2 separate regions of the Homo sapiens genome follow, and region 1 is linked to region 2. The links come from fine-mapping of genetic effects on gene expression. A gene starts in region 2. The other region holds a variant in brackets. All regions are shown on one strand. Distances are from middle to middle.

Region 1 (9,237 bases), 50 kb after region 2:
CAACAGACCCCGGTGTGTGATGTTCCCCTCCCTGTGTCCATGTGTTCTCACTGTTCACCTCCCACTTATGAGTGAGAACATGCAGTGTTTGGTTTTCTGTTCCTGTGTTAGTTTGCTGAGAATGATGGCTTCCAGCTTCATCCATGTTCCTGCAAAGGACATAAACTCATTCTTTTTTATGGCTGCATAGTATTCCATGGTGAATATGTGCCACATTTTCTTTATCCAGTCTATCATCAATGGACATTTGGGTTGGTTCCAAATCTTTGCTATTGTGAATAGTGCCGCAATAAACATACATGTGCATGTGTCTTTATAGTAGAATGATTTATAATCCTTTGGGTATATACCTAGTAATGGGATTGCTGGGTCAAATGGTATTTCTGGTTCTAGATCCTTGAGGAATTGTCACACTGTCTTCCACAATGGTTGAATTAATTTACACTCGCACCAACAGTGTAAAAGGATTCCTATTTCTCCACAGCCTCACCAGAATCTACAAGGAACTTAAACAAATTTACAAGGAAAACAAACAAACAAACAACCCCATCAGAAAATGGGTGAAGGATATGAACAGATACTTCTCAAAATAACTAAGTATGAAGAAAAGGCAGGAACTGTAAAATAAAAAACTAGTAAATTTCACCAAATAAAAATTTTTTAATGTGTTCCAAAACATATATATGATAATATATAATATGTAATATTTTATCTTAAGAGCTAATATATAAAGAACTCTTACAAATCAATAAAATAAAGATCAACCTTCCCAATAGAAAAATGGTCAATGGACATGAAATATAAATTTATAAAAGAAATACAAACTGTTAATAAAAAATTCCACCTCACTCACTAGCAAATAAATGCAAATAAAACAACAAGATAGTATCCCCACCTATTAAATTGGCAAAGGTTAACCAGAAAAATACTAACCAATACTGGTAAATGTGTGGGAAAGTTGACATTCCTATATACTATATTTTTAGAAGTGTAAATATCTTTCCAGTAAGTATTAAAAACCATAATATTACACATATGTTTTGGCCCAACAACAATCATAAATGAGCACAAACATTTGGCTATTAGAATGCTGAATTGAAGCATTATTATTATTATATTAGTTATATTAGCAAAAAATTCTGCAGAAACAAGATAAATACAAAAAGAATATTAGTCACCTGTATTAATCAAACTCTGGTGCCTTCAAACAGCAGAAGATGATCCAGTCATTAAGAATGGAACTAGAGGGGGACAAAAGTGCCTGCAATTGACAATTCAGCCATTCAACTATGTTCATTCACTCAACAACAACTCACTGAGCACATACACAATATTCAGCACTGCTGACATCAAGATGAACAGAATACAATCCCTTCCATCAAGAAACTGCCATTTTATTGTGGGAGACATTTGGTTAATGATACACCAGAGGTATGAACGGAGTGTGGCCGTATTCTCTCCTCCCCCACCAAAAAAAAAAAAAAAGAGTCTATCCTGGCAAGTGATCCAGATTTCGAAGAATCAGTAGCAGCAATTAGCAGTTCTAAACCATGAGTTAATTGTTGAAACTCCAAGACCAAAAGGCATGTGTGTTAGTTATCTATTGTTACATAACAATATTATAATACCACCAACTGAGCAGCTTGAAATAACTCACATTTATTGTCTCACAGTTTCTGACAGTGGTTTGGTGTCTGATCATGGCTTACCTGGGTTCGCTACTTCAGAGTTTCACAAGGCTGCAGTTAAGATGTCAGCCAGCTCTGTGATCTCATCCAATGACTTGACTGGGGAAGAAGCCACTTCCAAGTTCATGTGGTTGTTGGCAGGATTCAGGTCCTTGTGGGCTGTTGGACTGACAGGCTTAGTTTCTTGCTGGCTGTTGGTCCCTCTTAGTTCTCAGCTGTTTGTTGGACAGGAGCCTCTCTCAGATCCTTGCTCATGGGCCTCCACAGCATACTCACTTGCTTCATCAAAGCCAGAAAGAGAGACAGTCTGCTAGCAAGACAGATGCTATGGTCTTCTGTCATATAATCATGAGAGTGTCATCCTGTCACCATGGCCATTATATGGGTTAGAAGGAAGTCACAGGTCCTTCCTATCCTGCAAGGGGTAAGATTCTACAAAGGCACCAGGAGGCAGAGATCATTTGAAACAATCCTAGAGTCTGTTCACAACAGGGTAAAGGAGAGAAACATTAGTTCCCTGAAGCTGAGTCACTGGGGAAGCCAAATCAAAGGTGTGGGTTGGGATGGAGAATTCCCCAAACTGAGGCCGGTGGCATTGTCTTGGCCTCACTGTCAAAAAAATCATCCCCAAATTTGCAAAGTGGTCCATCCCATGAGTTCTTCTAAGCATGAGTATAGTGTATCTGGGGCAGGAAGCTCAGACTCAAATATCCACAAGGGCTGAGCAGGTAACATAATCCATACAGTTCTCCTCTTAAAGGAAAGTTGGAGACTGCAGCAAACTGGGCCACACATGGCCCATCATAAAGGGACTGCTGCCAGGCAGCTCAAGGAGTTTGTTGTCTATGCAGGAATGCAGTCCTATTCCTGCCAGAATTTCTGACTTTACAAAGAAGCTCCTTAAACCACATTTGTCCATGAAATTTCCCAAAATTTTAAATTATTTGTGGGCTAAGGAAAACATATCTGCCAGCCAGATCCAGCTCCCAGGACCTCAGTTTCAGATCCCAACCTAGCAACCTATCCTGAATTTGCAAGGATACAGAGCAAGGCCACTTGCTGAATTTCAAGCTAATATTTTCCACTCTGCTAGCTCCTGGCTGTTACTAACATGTTCTCTTCCCTTTTGAGTTTCTAATTGTGTGAACTCCTCACATTCAAGGCAGACCAGCCTGCTGATTAGTTTTAAATTTCAGGAGCTTTAAAGTCTCCAAATTTGGAGGTAAGCGGACTCTCATTAAGAAGTCATTTGATAAAAATTAATCCCTCCAGGAATATCTTGGACTCAGAAGAAAGCCCCAGCTCTCTCATTAGCTGGTTTTAAGTATCCAGTCCACCTCGGAGGCCCCAATCCTCCCTGGGTTTGACTCTGGGGCTCCAAACAGCTGCCACTGTGTCTGGAGACCAGATGCCAGTGATTCTAAAATCACAGGAAAGGATGCAGCAGAACTTCGAACTCAAAGGCTACAGCAAGCCCCCTGCCCCCTGAGCCCAACTCCTCAGATTTAATCACTTCCCCTTGAGCCTGAGAATGAGGGGACAGATTTTCATCTTACTGAGTAGATTTCAGAGCTTACTTCGCCTAATCCTTGCAGATTTGTCACTGACCTAGCAAAGAGAATAACTAAATGAGTGTTTGGGGGTCACCACGGGGGAGCTCCTGGGAGAAGAAACATCCCTCTGGGCTCATCCTGGACAACGTCCGGAGCCCAAGCCCTAGAGGGCTGCCAGCAGCATGGGTGGTGGTGACGTGCTTCCAGGGGCCTGTGAACCTGTCCAGAACCGGCCTCAACTTTAATCTCTAACTAACCCAGTTATAAAAAGCTTTTATGTTAGTGAGTGGTTGTTTTGGAAGCAAGGTAGCTTTCTTATTTTTTTTCCTAAATGTTTCTATTTTTATTTTTTGAAAAGATAACACATGCACATGGTTTTTTAAAAAATGTAAACAGAACAAAAGGGAAGACCATGAAAAGTAAATTCCCCCATCCCTACTTTTGTATCCCAATTCCCCACCCCAGGGCAATTGCTGTTATAAGTTTCTCCTGAAGAAAGATGGATGTTTTTAAATTTTCTAATCTGGCCTCAAAAATAGCCAAAGGCCAAACACAGCCCACAATAATGTAATTAAAATGAGTGATGGAGCCATACACATGACATGTCACAGGAAGAGAAAGATCACAAACACAAACTCACACTCAGAGAGCACACAAAATCAGTGTGTGTGTGTGCAGAGTGTCTTTGTGTGTAAAGAGAGTGTGTGGGTGTGAAGGATTTGTAGGTATAGTGTGTGTGCACTTGTGCATATACTACTTGTGTGCCAGGGTGTGTGTGTGCGTGTGTGTGTGTTGCCCTCGTCTCTCTGAAAACTTCAGTCAATTCCATAAACATTTATTGTGTGCTGTGTGCCAGGCCCTGTTCCCAGTGCTGTGGGTTATACCAAGATAAATCATATAAGGTCCCTGGCTTTGGGGAGCTTACGATAAGAATAATTCACATTGGATTGGCCCCTTTCCCTTTACAGGGAAATTTTCAGGCGAGTTATGTCATAACTCAGGCTGGCTACAGCCCGAGGCATGCTGGGACTTAAGCAGCCAGGGCTGAGCTGGCAGGAGGGGGAAGCCCTGATGGGG[G/A]ATGGGTACATGGAACCAGCAGCAGAGGCTGGGTCTCCGCAGACTGCTAAGGACCAGGGACTTGGGCCACAGGCGCCACCCCCTTGAGAAGGTTCAGATAGGCACCTGTGTCAAAAAGGCCAGATGCATGCTGCATTGGCCTGGCGATTCTGTTCCTACAGTAGCACTGCTTCATAGCCCAGCTCTGCCACTAATTACAAGTGTGATCCTGGGCAAATCGCTTAACCTCTGTTCATCTCTTCAACAGAGACAGATGATAGTTTCCTCCTCCTAGAGGTCATATGAGGATTAGTGAGGTAAGGCAAGCAAATACATAGCATGGTGTTACTCAGTAAATGCTCAATACAGGGCATCATGGCTGCTGTTATTATATTGCTATTATTCAACAACACAAAACTCTGAATCTCCACAATTTAATACAAGAAGGGGGATCCCCTGGTTTAGAGGGATGCCTGATCAAGGGCCCTTGAATTGAGCCTCTTAAATGTCACTTTCCATTTGAGGACCCTCACTCTGATTCTGGCTCTTGCTGCCTCTCCTGGTCAGCTCCAGCCCCAAAAAAGCATAATGAAAACAGGGCAGAATTTTCAAAAAGTTTTGCTAAATTTTAAGGCAAGTCAGCACACTGCTTACAAAGAATCTAACTGTACCCCATCTTGCCAGCTCACGGTGGCTTTCAGGCCCATCTCTCTCAACATGGAACCCCAAGGAAAGAGGCAGCTTTGCATGAGTCCCTCATTTCCTGGCTCAAGTCCAGTAGGTTCCTAAGCTTTGCAAGTATATACCAAGCATCCTACACAGGTGGAGGGTCGGATAAGTTCCCCCAGAGAAAGCAACTCTGGAGCAAACACCTGAAAAAGGAGTTTGAATATCTGCATGGGAGGTGAGGAGGGCAGAAATGCAGAGGACATTCTAAGCAGGAAGGTGAGCATGGGCAAAGGTCCTGGAGCAGAAAGGCACATGGTGGATTTGAGAGATGGAAGGAAAAAACCATGTGCCTGAAGAGGACAAAATAAGGGGAAAAATAACAAAAGATGAGATTAGAGAGGTAGGCAACTTCCAGATTGCAAAGAATGTTGTGGCCATCTGTGGTGAACACTGCTACCACTCAGGCCCTATTCTAAGGAAGAACCTGTTACTCCAGATGCTAGGCATGTTGTGGTGGCCAGCTGTCCATGGTCAGGACCTTCAGGGATTGTCTCAACTGCAGACGGCTGCCTCATCCATTGTCACACCCTTTATGGGGCAATTCATACCCGGTGGGGCTGTAAAGGCGTAACCATCTTTACTCAACTCAAGAAAACAGTGATGGACCAGTCCAACTCCAGAGCTCCCCATGGGACAAGCTGAGGCTGTCTTTGGGCCCATATCGTGGCTTAACTCTTTCTGCCCATTTGTGTTTCCATCTCCTGCATCCATGAGTGTTTGTCCCAAGGGATTAAGAATGAGCATGCTTCATGCCAAACTCCATCTGTTTTCTGGGGAACCCAACCTATACCACCATGTCCAGAATTTTGGATTTTATTCTAGGAGCCATTGGGGAACTATTGAAGGGCTTATGCAAGGGAGTGACATGATTGGAGTTGCATTGTAGAACACTTAATTGGCTCCTCTGGAGAAAATGGGTTGGAAGATGATGCTTCCAAGTGAGTTGGGTATGGAGGCAGTTCTTCTGGCCGTCTAAGTGTCCTCAACCCATTCTAAGACATGTTCCCTTCCCCAGATAATCCTGGCAAGGTCTTACCCTTTAGGGAACAACTTGTCATTCACCCTATACACCATGTCATGCAACACCACAACCACTGAGGTCATGCATCAGGGGTTACACACTCACAATAATGAGGGCAACATTGGAACTGGAGGGGGATGTGTAAGAAGCTCAATAAAGTCAGACTGAAGGTACAGCCCTAGGAGTTTAATAAGATGCTTTAGCAGTGACTCTCAGCAGTGATAGGTGCACAGAGAGTTTTGGATACCCCTTGCCATCACTTCTCAGGGGTCTTCAGATCACAGCTTCAGATCTTAAGCTTGGAGAGCATGCTTAAGATCATTGCTATGGAGTAATTTCTCCGTGACACAACAAGTCTAAAATTTGTATGAATGCCACAGCTCAATGTTTCTCAAAGTGTGGTCCTTGGGGCAGCATCAAGGAACCTGTTAAATGCAAACTCTTAGGCCCATGTCAACTAACTCAGAAACTCTGGAGCTGGGGCCCAGCAAGTTCTCCAGGTGGCTCTGATGCTTAAGTCTGAGAACCACTTTCTATTAAAACACGATGAAACATTTATATCAATAAGGATCAGTTCTATATGCATGTATTTAAACAGGTGGTCTCTCACCTGAAAAATAGAGTTAGTCATTTAAAAAGGACAGTTACCTGGAGAATGGCTATTTAGTCTTGCTGTGCATCAGAATCAACTATGAAATTGGACTTATTTTCTTTCTTCTTCTTTTTTTTTGGAGACAGGGCCTCACTCTATTGCCCAGACTGGTGTGCAGTGGCTCAATCATAGGCTCGCTGCAGCCTCAACCTCCTGGGCTCAAGCCGTCCTCCCACCTCAGCCTCCCGAGTAGCTGGGACCATAGGTATATGCCGCCATGCCCAGCTAATTTTTAAATTTTTTTTGTAGAGACAGGGGTCTCGCTATGTTGTGCAGGCTGGTCTGAAACTCCTGGCCTAAAGCTATCCTCCCACCTCAGCTTCCCAAAGTTCTGGGATTACAGGTGTCAGCCACCACACCCAGTTGTATTTTTTTAATGCTGATGGTCAATATTTAATGTATACATTCAGCTCAGTCTGTTTTTTAAGAACCACAGATGATTCTGATGTATAACCAGGATTGAAATCCATACTAATTCACAGATAGAATTCTATCTGTACAGTAGAGCAAGGATTTAGTGGTCAGGACTGAGAAGGAGTTTCTAAACCAGTCATCACCAACCCTGACTGCACGTTAGAATCACTGAGGAAGCTTTCAAAAACCCCAAAGCCTGAGCTAAATCCTCAAGACCAATTACATAAGAGCACCCCAGGTGGCCCCCAGGGAGCATCTTGCACTTGGAAACAGGATAGAAGTGGGAGAAGAGGGGAACTCTGACACAGGATTCTGAAATTATAAAAATCTTTTGAAGCTGGGGCTGTGGTTCTTTTTATTTGGTTTTGTCTTCTTATTTATTTATTTTAACTTTTATTTTAAGTTCAGGGTACATGTGCGGGTTTGTTACATAGGTAAACTTGTCTCATCACCAGGTATTAAGCCTAGTACTCATTAATTATTTTTCCTAATCCTTTTCCTTCTCCCACCTTCCACCCTCCAATAGGCCCCAGTGTGTGCTGCTCCCCTCTATGTGTCCATGTGTTCTCACGTGGGAGCTGTGGTTCTTAATCTAGGGGCCTCCCCATCAACTAGGGAGTCTTTTATGTATAATGCATATATTATGTATATATGCATGTGTTATTTATTTATTTTTGAAAGATGCCCAGCTCCCACACCAGACCCAATGAATCAGAATTTTCTGGGATGTGAGCCCTGGGCAGGTTAATTAAAGTCCTCCACAGATTGTTTTTATGCTCACCCTTGGTTAAGAATCTCATTTAGAAAAAGGAAAACACAAGTTTGACCAAAGTTTTAAGAAGAAGAGAGATTCATTAAAATAGATAGGAAACTATATTATAAAGACGTAATAAAACACTGTAGTGATGTGTAGCAAAGGCATACACATTGATGGAACAGAATAAAATTTCCAGAAATTGACATAGATCTATAAAAGTCAATGTAGTATATGGCATTTTTAATCAATCATCATTATGTTGAGACAACATGATACCCATCTGGGAAAAATTTGTTAGAATCTTAGCCCATACCATACCCCAAAATTAATTCTAGTTTTTTTTAAATTTTATGTAAAAATAAACCATAAGGACACTGAAAACATGGGTGAACAATTTTAGAAACTAGGGATGGAGAAGGGTTTTCTAAGCATGACACCAAATGCAGAAAACATAAAGGAAAAGTCTGTCAAACTTGATTATAACACATAAAAAACAGTAACAACTTATGTCAAAAACCATCATAAATAAAACTGAAGGGCAATTGATACACAGCAGAATATATGTTTGCCATTTATGATGATATCCTTAACATCGAAGCAGCTCCTTTAACTCAAAAAGAAACAATGAATACCCAACAAACAAAAGCACACAGGATGTGAAAATGCAATTAATAATAGAAAAATTATAAACTGGCTGGTACATATTAAGTGTATATGTCACATCACTAGAAATCAAAGAAATACAAAATAAAGCAATAATAAAATGTCACCTTTCTCAAATGAAACTTTTTTTTGAAGTGAATTAGAATGAGCCAGTGTTGGCTAGAATATAGGGACAAGGGAGTTATCATTTATGGCAGGCAGGAGTACAAATTCACCCACTGATCTGGCAGTTCCACCATTTCCAAGACTTCACCCTGAGGGAGTGGTGGATGTACACAAAGGTCGTATAATTTTGTATTGTGTACAGGCTCAATAATGATATTCTTCAGAGTGCCTTTACAACTGTGAAAAATAAATAAAGACTCACTGGTAGGAGACGTTAGCTACCTATGTACTGTTTTCCCTTTGAAAAATGACTGAAAGTGAACATAATAAAATATTAATAGTTGTTAACAGCACAGGGTGGGAGTATAGATGTCTATTAAGTTGTTCTTTGCACTTTTCTAGAACTTTAAATTCTTTCCAGATTGTGGTCAAATATGTTGTTATGGGAGAGTAATCACTGGCATGGAAAATAGTAAAAATATATTTTCAGTGAAAATAAATACAGATTTAAATACAGATTTATTGAGTATATTCTAAATTTTATTTTAAAAACATGGATGCAAAGCAAAAACTTGGTGTGCCAAGTTATTTAGGGGCTG
Region 2 (9,237 bases):
AAAGGGGAGAGAGGGAAGGAGGAAGGGAAGGGAAGGAATAAAGAGGAAAGTATGGAACTATCTTTATAGCAATTGATTAATTCCTCAGCCCGATTTAGTAACAGCAGCAGCATCAGAAACTAATATTTTTAATACTAACAGAACTAATAGTGATAACAGGAGTGTTGTAGTAATTAGTAGCAATAACAGTAGTAACATTACTGCCTTGTCTTTATATATCATAGAATTTTCCAGGGCAATTTCATGTACAGTTTTGCATTTATTCTTCACAACACGTTTCTAGGATAGTTACTACAGGTCCCATTCCATGATGAGGAAGCTGAGACTTGGGAGAATCACCTTTCTTCAAATCATACAGCACCTAGGTGACCACCTCTGGTCTTCTGACTGTGGTTCCCTGTCCTGGTTCCCTCATCAGCCTGGTGTTGCTTTGCCCACCTGTCCAAGCAGCTAGGAGATACCACCCTGCAGCTCTTACCTCGGGGAGGAAATGTGGGTGGGGGAGAACCCAGGCCAGACACATAGTTGAGGTAAGCATCAGAGATGGCATGGCAGAAAGACAGCAAATTGGAGAGAACCCACTGCAGAAGGCTGGGCTCTCTGGTAGTGGCCTGAACGGGAGTGGTTCCCAAGAAGGATCAGGCTAAGGACAAGAAGGTGCAGACTCTGTCTCCTGGTCTCTCCAAATGATGGTGTCTTTCTGGCTATATCACTCGGCCTTCAGCTTTATCTCCATTTACCCACAGAAAGAAGCCCCTCCTTTGGGTTAAGGGTAAAGCTTTTGATTTTTCCACTATCTGGATTTCAGCCTCCTGATCAGGAAGTTATCACCAGGGGCTTTGATGTGGGCAGATCATACTAAGATCCACACTGCCTGCAACTCTGCACCTCCCCCTTTGGAAAGCACAGTCCACTCCAATGGGTGCAAGGGTTCTTTGGCTATGTCTGCCCAGTGGACCCTGGCTTTATGATGGCAAGCTGTGAACTGACAAGGCAGTGGACAGAGAGCGGAACATCCTGTCACCCACCGTACCTAGCTCATGGGATTCAGGAAGAAAGTAAGAACATGGGTTTTAAAAGATTCCAGAAATCCCCATGATTTCTGCAGTTAATGTGTATGACTTGGTCATAATAAAAAGAAATGTACAAAAATGTTCTTTACATACAGAAAGATGTTCTGGAGGTTATGGAAACAGCATCTAAGTGGGGTAGTATTACCCTGCACAGAAATGGCAATCCACAAGCTAAACACTTGACTCTAGGGGTGTGGATTTGTAACTGAAAGAAGCACAAACCACACAGCCTTTTCCTGACACTGGAGCCTCCCAGCCTTCCTGGTCAAGCAATGGGGAGAGGGCAATTACGACCAGACCTCTAGGATAGTCTTTTAGAAATATAAAGTGGGGAAAGGTGGTAGAGGGGGAGAGAAGAGAGAAGCAGAGCTGTCAGCATGCTTGATGTTAAATAAAACCTACCAAGACTCAGCTGAGAATTTTAGCAGAATCCAAATGTGCTAAAAAAAAATAAATAAATAAAAAATAAGACATGGCTTCCCTCTCTAAGGTTCACAGCTAAGCTTGCTTAGAATCACACATGCCAAGGTTAAAAATAAAAAGCAGCCATCCCTGAATGACATGGGCTCCAGGATGGAAGCCTGAGGTATGCTGTTTAGTGGTGGAAGGAAGAGAGGGGAGGGAGGAGAGTCTGGGTTCAGGGCATAGGTATTTATTGGAGGGCACACTATCTGAAAGCCAGATGCTCAGAATTTTGCTGTTTTGCACTTAAAAGGCACTTCGCATTGGCAAAAGGTGTCATAATGATCTTCAGATTTTCCATCGAGGAAATGCTGGCCTGCATTCGAATGTGGTCATGGCTGACCCACTCTGGGCTCTGCTGTTCAATGTGTTTGCCTCCTCCATCCCGGGATCTGACTCAGACAGTGTCCACATGCACCTAGACGGGATGCCCATGAGTCACAGCTTGGAAAGCACAGTGGGCTATTGGCATTGGCATGAAGCCAGATCTGCCACTCTGTGCCACCCTACCCTATTAACCAGACATAATGGTGCTGGGGCCACCCACAGGCTAGCTAGCCCCTGGTTGGCTGCAATGGGGACAGACTATGTGTCTGCCTGCTAAGGATGATGCATGACCCACTCGTCCCCACAACTACAACCATTGCGAGCCAGGAGTAACCTGCAAAGGTGCTAAATCAGGCCTGCGGTCCCCCTACTTTTGGTAAATCCAGGGCCCTCTATTATAAGCCCAGTGGGGTCCTCTTTCTAACAAAGTTGTCCCTTGTCCAATATGCATATGACCTCTACTGCCTAAAGCTGTAGATAAAAACAGCAGATTTAGCCTCAGCTACTCTGTCAGCTACCATGTTACCCCTCCCCAACGTCATTACTATGCAGATGTTTCTAGAAAGTCTTCAAAGGGTCAGGTGAATTGTGAGAATTCTGTGACCTATGTGTTAACAGGGAGCCGGGACATTACACCACCCACATGTGGGCCAGTCCTACACTTCAGCACCATACAGGGCTAGGGAGGCAGAAAGGCATTGAGGCGTGGACGCTGCCACCTCACAGAAGCTTTGGTCTGTGCCTTGACTCCCCCAGTGGGGATAATTCTCCTCCCTGGCATGCATGGGAAGCATAGACAGTCTATGCATGACTGGCTGCCCCTAGCACCCTTGCTAGCCTTCACCCGCAGGGCCCACCTTCAAATTCCACATTTTGGCTGCTGGTTTAGAAGCATCACTTAAAGTGAAGTGCCTTTTTTACACCTTTAAGGCACTTCAGAAAAGCCTTGGAAGGTATACAGGGCAAGGGCTGTTTTCCTGCCCATTGGGATGGATGAGAAAATAGAGGCTGATAGAGTTTAAGAAACTTGCTCAAGCTTAAGTGACAGACCCAAGACTCGAATCCAGGGCTCTTTCCACTACTCAAAGACCACCTACCAGGGCCAGAGCTACTGGGGGTCTCAGCCCCAGTACAGCAGCAAATACCTGGGTTTGAGATTGAGACTCCCTAAGGCATCTTTCTTACTGGAGACCTCTGGCGATGCACTGTCATTTGGCCTGAACTCTGGGGACCTTTCCCAAACAGAGCCTTGCTGCAAGGGGTCTCTGAACTGCCTTATCTTTCTCAGGGTCCTTCAGGGGCTGGGTACCAGCAAAGACCTACAGAGGGTTAGGATGGTGCCGTGTTCAGGCAGCACAGGTCCTCGCCTGTCCCTTCCTTGGGCACCCTAAGGGCTGGTCACAGAGGGAGTTAGCCCTTTAGCTGGCACTTAGGTTTGACTGGAGATAATCCTTTTCCAACGACTCCAGTGACGAGGGAACGCCCTTTGCAGTTCCAGAAACTGCCCGTCTAGATTATCACTGGGAAGTTCTGGGTAAATTCTGCTATAGCCCCCCATGGCCCTGTGTGTCAGCCTGAACCCATACAATGAGTTGGGTTAAAAGAAAGAGAAAACACAAGAGACGGATGGCTCTCCCAATGGAAGCGATCAGAGACCCGGCGCACGGAGCGGAGCTCCTGGTCCTTACCTGTACCAATCCAGCCCGCGGCCGTAGTTCCTGTCAAAGAAGTGGGGTTCCGTGCCCAAGGCCCGCACGTCCGGGTGTACTCGGATAAACTCCAGCACGGCCCGGGTGCCCCCCTTCTTCACGCCCACAATGAGGGCTTGGGGCAACCGCTTGGTACCCAGCTTGGGTGAGCCGGAGTGGTTGGAACCGGAGAGGCGAGGGGCGGGCACGGCGGCGGCGGGCGCGCTGGGAGCGCTGGGCTCGCTGGGCGTCGGCCCGGAGGGATCACAGGGGCGGGACTTCTGGAGAAGTTTCTGGCCGCCCGCGCTGGGGCCGCGGAGGCAGCGAGGCGCGCCGAGGAGGCGGCTCCGACCCAGGTCGTCGCAGCAGCACAGGAAGCTGTAACACAGGTAAGTGCAGGAGAGCGAGAGCGTGAAGGCGAAGAGCAGCCTGCGCGCCCTCCGCGGCTGAGGTGGCCCCGCGCGGCCCAGGACCCTATAGGCCATGGCTCCATGGGCCCGCGCCGGGGGTCATGGTTTCCGAGGGGGCACCGGCGGCTGAGCTGCTGTGGCCCTGCGGTCGCCTAGAGGGCTCGCGTGGCGCTGCCACGGCCACGCGGGTCGGGCGTTGGGGGCGCCGTCTTCTCCGGGGGCTGCTGACCAGGGTGCGCACAGTGCCAGGGGGTCCCGGGGGCAGCGGCTCCTCGGGGAACAGGCGGTTGCATTTCCAGCATCTCCCGGTCCTAGGCGATGGGGCTCCGGGCAGCCGGGCGGCTCGGGCGCTCCCAGGCTCTTACGTGCGCCGGGTTCGGAGCGCGCCCAGCGCCCGAAGCCCCATTCCTGATCCTCGGAGCGCCGCTCACGAAACGCTCGGCGGCGGCGCGGCTGTGCGGGCTGGCGGGTGGACCGGACGGTGGCGCTGGCGCCGGCCGCGATCTGGCTCTTCGGGAAATGCCGAGCGGAGCGCGCTGCCGGCTCTATTTAAGGAGTGGCCTGACGTCAGCCGCGCGGGTCCCCCGAGCCCGCGCCGCGCCCAGGGACCTGGCCCGCCCCCTGCGCCCCCACTCTCTTACCCCTCCCAGAAACACAGCACGCGGGCCCTCCCCATGCAGGCCACTCCCTACGGAGCCCCAGGCCAGCTTTGGGGCGGTGAAACGAAGGTGTCAAGGCATAGTACTCCTCCGGGAGGCTGGACACCCCCACCACGCTGGCCTCTCGACATCCAGGGACACGAATCCAGGTCGAGATCGCGCCGACATGCAGACCAGACAGACCCAGACGCAGACGCAGGCACCCTGCCCTGATGCGCGGTCCCACCACCCTGACCCGCACACGCACGCACAGGCACAGAAGCACACGCGCCCTAGCCCGGACACACCCCCACACCCACGCGGGGGTGGGGAGGAGAAGTCCCCTAACCTGGGCCCAGATACACCGACAAGGACACTCCCCCCGCTCTCGACATCTCGCCAAATGGACACACACAGCCCGGAATCGGACACCGAGCGCACGCACGCCCTGGACTGGGACACGCGCTGTAGACGGGATGGGTGGAGGAGCCGAGCGTGAGTGAGATTCCGTGACTATTCACCCAGCTTCTTAGCCCCCAGCGCGCTGACTCACACCCCGGCGGCTCGCTCTGTCTCGCACCTATGAGGCACGCGCGCACCCCAACCCATTGTCACCCCACCTCTCCCCGGGCCTGCCGGAGAGCGAGCCCCGGAGCGGCAGACTCCGCGTCAGGAGGGTTCCTCTCTTAGCAGCCGCCGCCTAGCGGTAGACTGCTCCCCGGGGAGCTGTCCAGGGTACCAGAGGGTCGCCGAGGGCTGAGTGAGGAGGGCTTCTTCACACAGAGACACTAGGAGGAGGAAACAGAGTACAAGGAGAACGTATCCAGGAGCAATTCCACTTCGAATGATTCCTAAGTGAATGCCTACAGGACAGTTCTCGGTGACCATGTCCAGAACAGGCATAAGTGACGATCCCCAGTACTTCCCTGAGGGACCACACTGGTACCTTGGATCAGAACCCTGCATCAGAACAGGCCTAAATGGCCATGGCTAAGAACACGGCTGAGTTGTCCTTCAACAGCAATGCCAATGCCAATTCACCATGTCCGAGTGTTCACAAGGTGAGTGCCCTCCACCACCACCCAGCCATAGAATGTCTAGATGACCACCATGACCCCCACCCTGATCAGGGTATAACTGACTTCCTTCCTCAGGCTGTAAACTGATCATTAGGTTCTGTGGATCTTAGCCCAAACCAGAAAATATTTTGTCCCCAAACTAGTCCCATCCCTAGAAACCTTAAACCAATTCTACGGCAGATAATAATAATAGCTGCCAACTTTGTATCAAGCACCTGGCATGGGTTAACTGATTAAATATTCACAACCTATGAAGTTGTTACCATTACCCTGGCATCACTTTGCTGTCTTAATTCTAATAGTAGCTAGCATTTATTGAGTGCTTGTTTTATGGGAGTTATGCGCTAATCACTTGACATGCACTACCTCATTTATCTTTGGAGATAGGTATTATTGTAATTTCTAATCTACAGGCAGTGATAAGAAGATTTAACAAACATATACACAGTAACTGGCAGAGCTGGGATTAAACCCGGGCAGTCTTGACTCCAAGATTCAAGCTCTTAGTTACAGCACTTTGCAGCTTCCTAACTTCCTTTGACCATTATTCATATAATTCCATCCTAGGCTCCTCTCCTGGATGTAAGCTAATTTGTCTATGTCTCTTCTAAAATCTCACACCTGGGACTGCGCGAGGAATTTCAGATATGGATTGAAAAGTTCAACAGGACTCTCACCTCTCTTTTGTAAGTTCTATTTCTAGTAATGCCACCTAAGACTCCATTATCTTTTTCTTGTGGCTATATCACACTGCTGACATCTCAAACTTGCAGCCAAGTAACATCTCTAAATGTTTCTTACAAGTGCTGCTGATTAAGGCACAGCTACCCCATACTGTGCTTGTACAGTGGGCCTTTTTGGACCCAATGTGTAGGTCCTTATAGATTTGACTTGATTGCATTTCATCTTGTCTCATCAGTTCGCTGCCCTAGTTTTTTTTAAATGTCTATTTGAAGTCAAACCACGAGGTAGCTTTCATTTATTCAAAAAGAAAAAGTAGAAAGATTGTATCCCAGCTTTACCCTTTATTCCAGGTGTACTTTGGGCAAGTGGACCCCCTTTAAGCCTCAGGTTCCTCAGCTGTAAAATGGGACGCTATGATTCACCTTAAAAGTCTCTCAAAGTTTAGATGTTGCATGATTCTATGATTCCATTACCCAAAGCATGAACCACTCACTTGGCATCATGTAATTTCCACAGTTGATCACAATTTAATTAATTCCTCATTCTAATTGTTAATAAAAATGTCAAAACAAATATACTTAAAGGAGTTCTTCTTCTTCTTTTGGGTGAGGGGAAGTGTCTCACTCTGTTGACCATGCTGGCATGCAGTAGTGCAATCATAGCTCATGCTGCAGCCTCCACTTCCTGGGCTCAAGGGATCCTCCTGCCTCAGCCTCCTGAGTAGCTAGGACTACAGGCATGTGCCACCACACCTAGCTAGTTTTTTAATTTTTTGTAGAGATGAAGTCTTACTGTGTTGCCCAAGCTGGTCTTGAACTCCTGAGCTCAAGTGATCCTCCTGCCTCAGCTTCCCAAAGTGCTAGAATTACAGACATGAGCCACAATGCCTGGCCTGGAAGGAGCTCTTATATATACTTTGAACAATTATTCACATCATGAACCTGCTATTTTTGTATTCCATTGTTAAAATTACAAGGTTAAATGTGGAGTCATCTGCTGTGATCAGTACTATTTCCCTTAGAAAATAAAACATGAATATAATGATTTCTCATAATTCTGTGCTTGGCTTAATTTTTAAATAATTTTTAACCTTTGAATTCATAAACTGTGATATCCCTGGGTACTCACATATATCAAAACCAGGAAGATTTTCCTCTTCAAATTTCCAATCAGAGTAATGACTGACTTGGATAGAATTTTTTAGGAAGTGAGACATTGGACATACCTGCCCATCTCCTAAACCTTTATCTGTTTACAGTAGCAAACGTGATTCTGCTTTGGGGGTATCAGGTAGGATTATGCTGGGTTGTGTAGTTTGTCAATTAACACCCACTTAAGCAAGGTATATGTTTATTTTTGTAATCACATGAAAGTCCAGATGAAGGTACTTTAGGGCTTGTATGGAAGCTCCAAAGTGTTTGGGACCCAGGCTCCCTCTATCTTGTTACTCTACCATGCATTTCCTCCATTCTAAAGTCACCACATAGTCTACAATGACTTATTCATCTGCAGCCAGAATGTTCACATTCTGGTCATTAGTAAATATGTAAAGACATGCCATATCTGTTTAAGGACATTTCTTGGAAGTTGCCTGTATTATTTCAACTCGTATTCAATTTGACAGCATTTTATCATTTGACTTTCTAGCTTCAAGAGATGCTTCAAAATGCAGTCTTGATTCTGGATGGCTGTATGCCTGGCTAACACTTTGAGATTTTGGTATCAAGAAAGAACTAAAGAATGGTTATGGAGGACAACTAGTAATCCTTGCCATCCTTGGACAAACAGTTTTCCCTCTTTTATTCCCATGTGGTTTGTATGGGTTGAACATAGTTCAAAGACAGGCATATGACCAAGCCTGACATCATCACTTTCTAATTATATTTCAAGAACTGAAAGTAACTCAAATCTTTCTAGTGAGAATAAACCACACAACATTTGTGAAAACTATTGGAAAAGAGAAACTTCTTTTTCTGAGATGATGAATTAATCTAAAATAAGCCTGAAGCTTCCAATGGTCATCTCTGCTATCAAGAGGAGAAACCAACAATAAAGCCAACAAAGAGGAGAGCAGAACTGATGGAGGGAGAATTAGATTCCTGATAATATCCTTTGAACCTCTGAATCTAGCCATGCGGAATGCATGGACCCTGGACTTTATTGCTGCAGTGATTAGCTATCTTTCTGTTAGCACTTGCAACTGAAAGAGTGCTGACCAATACAACAAACAAACAAAAAGAGTTGCTCCCTCCGTTGCAAGGAATAGATACCATTTTAATAAAAAGTGTTGGAGGTGGGGGGGCTTATTTTGAAGGATATGCATGTATCAGGACTGCAACCCTTCCAAATTTGAGACAGTCATAGGATCCAGTTACTTTCTTCAACTTCTCTACTTTTCTTGTATCTTATTTATTTTGCTTCTCATTCTTAACTGCCATTGCTCTTTATTTATGAAACAGTAAGGGTTACTAGAAGTGAAAAAAAGAGATTTGGGATATCTTACACAGGAAAGGAACTTTGGGGTAGCTCACAAAATTAAGAAGAAGGCTGGAGAACTGGGCTCAAATAGAATAGCAACCAAAGAGCACATTACACTCTCTTTCTTTTCTTTTTCTGAGTCCATTTCTCTTTCACATTAGCATTCTCTTGAATCTTCCTTCCCACTCTAATGCCCTGCATTCAAGACTTTGAATTTAAAATCATAAAATAGGAAATTTTCTTCCCCTTCAGTCTTTGGGCCTAATCAAGCCTTGTTATTCAGTTTTATTTCAGTGTGTAAGCTTCAAATCTGTTCCCTAAAGCAGAGTTTTGCAAAAATGTGAGAAAATGTCCCAAAGAGGGTGACTCCTATGAGGCAAAGGACAGTGAAGTGGAGC

Direction of the effects. Positions count from the first base shown, and alleles are read on the strand shown. Sizes are in standard deviations (SD) of each study's normalised expression.
With allele A in place of G in region 1, the expression in iPS cells of the gene that starts at base 4,484 in region 2 is lower (large effect, 1.3 SD a copy in HipSci).

The links.
Region 1: its variant is fine-mapped to the expression of HS3ST2 in iPS cells (HipSci, PIP 0.95).

The regions. Positions count from the first base shown.
Region 1 is chr16:22,758,936-22,768,172 of GRCh38, reverse strand. No RefSeq gene overlaps it. Among named protein-coding and RNA genes, the nearest start is that of HS3ST2, 51 kb to the left of the region's middle. The variant G/A (reference allele first, on the strand shown) is at 4,319.
Region 2 is chr16:22,809,409-22,818,645 of GRCh38, reverse strand. It overlaps HS3ST2 (heparan sulfate-glucosamine 3-sulfotransferase 2), which reads right to left and starts at 4,484. Exons shown (of 2, transcript NM_006043.2): 1 at 3,551-4,484. The coding sequence starts at 4,035. LOC107984851 (collagen alpha-1(XVI) chain) reads left to right here and starts at 3,787. Exons shown (of 4, transcript XR_001752349.2): 1 at 3,787-3,939; 2 at 5,382-5,659; 3 at 6,245-6,363; 4 at 8,009-9,237.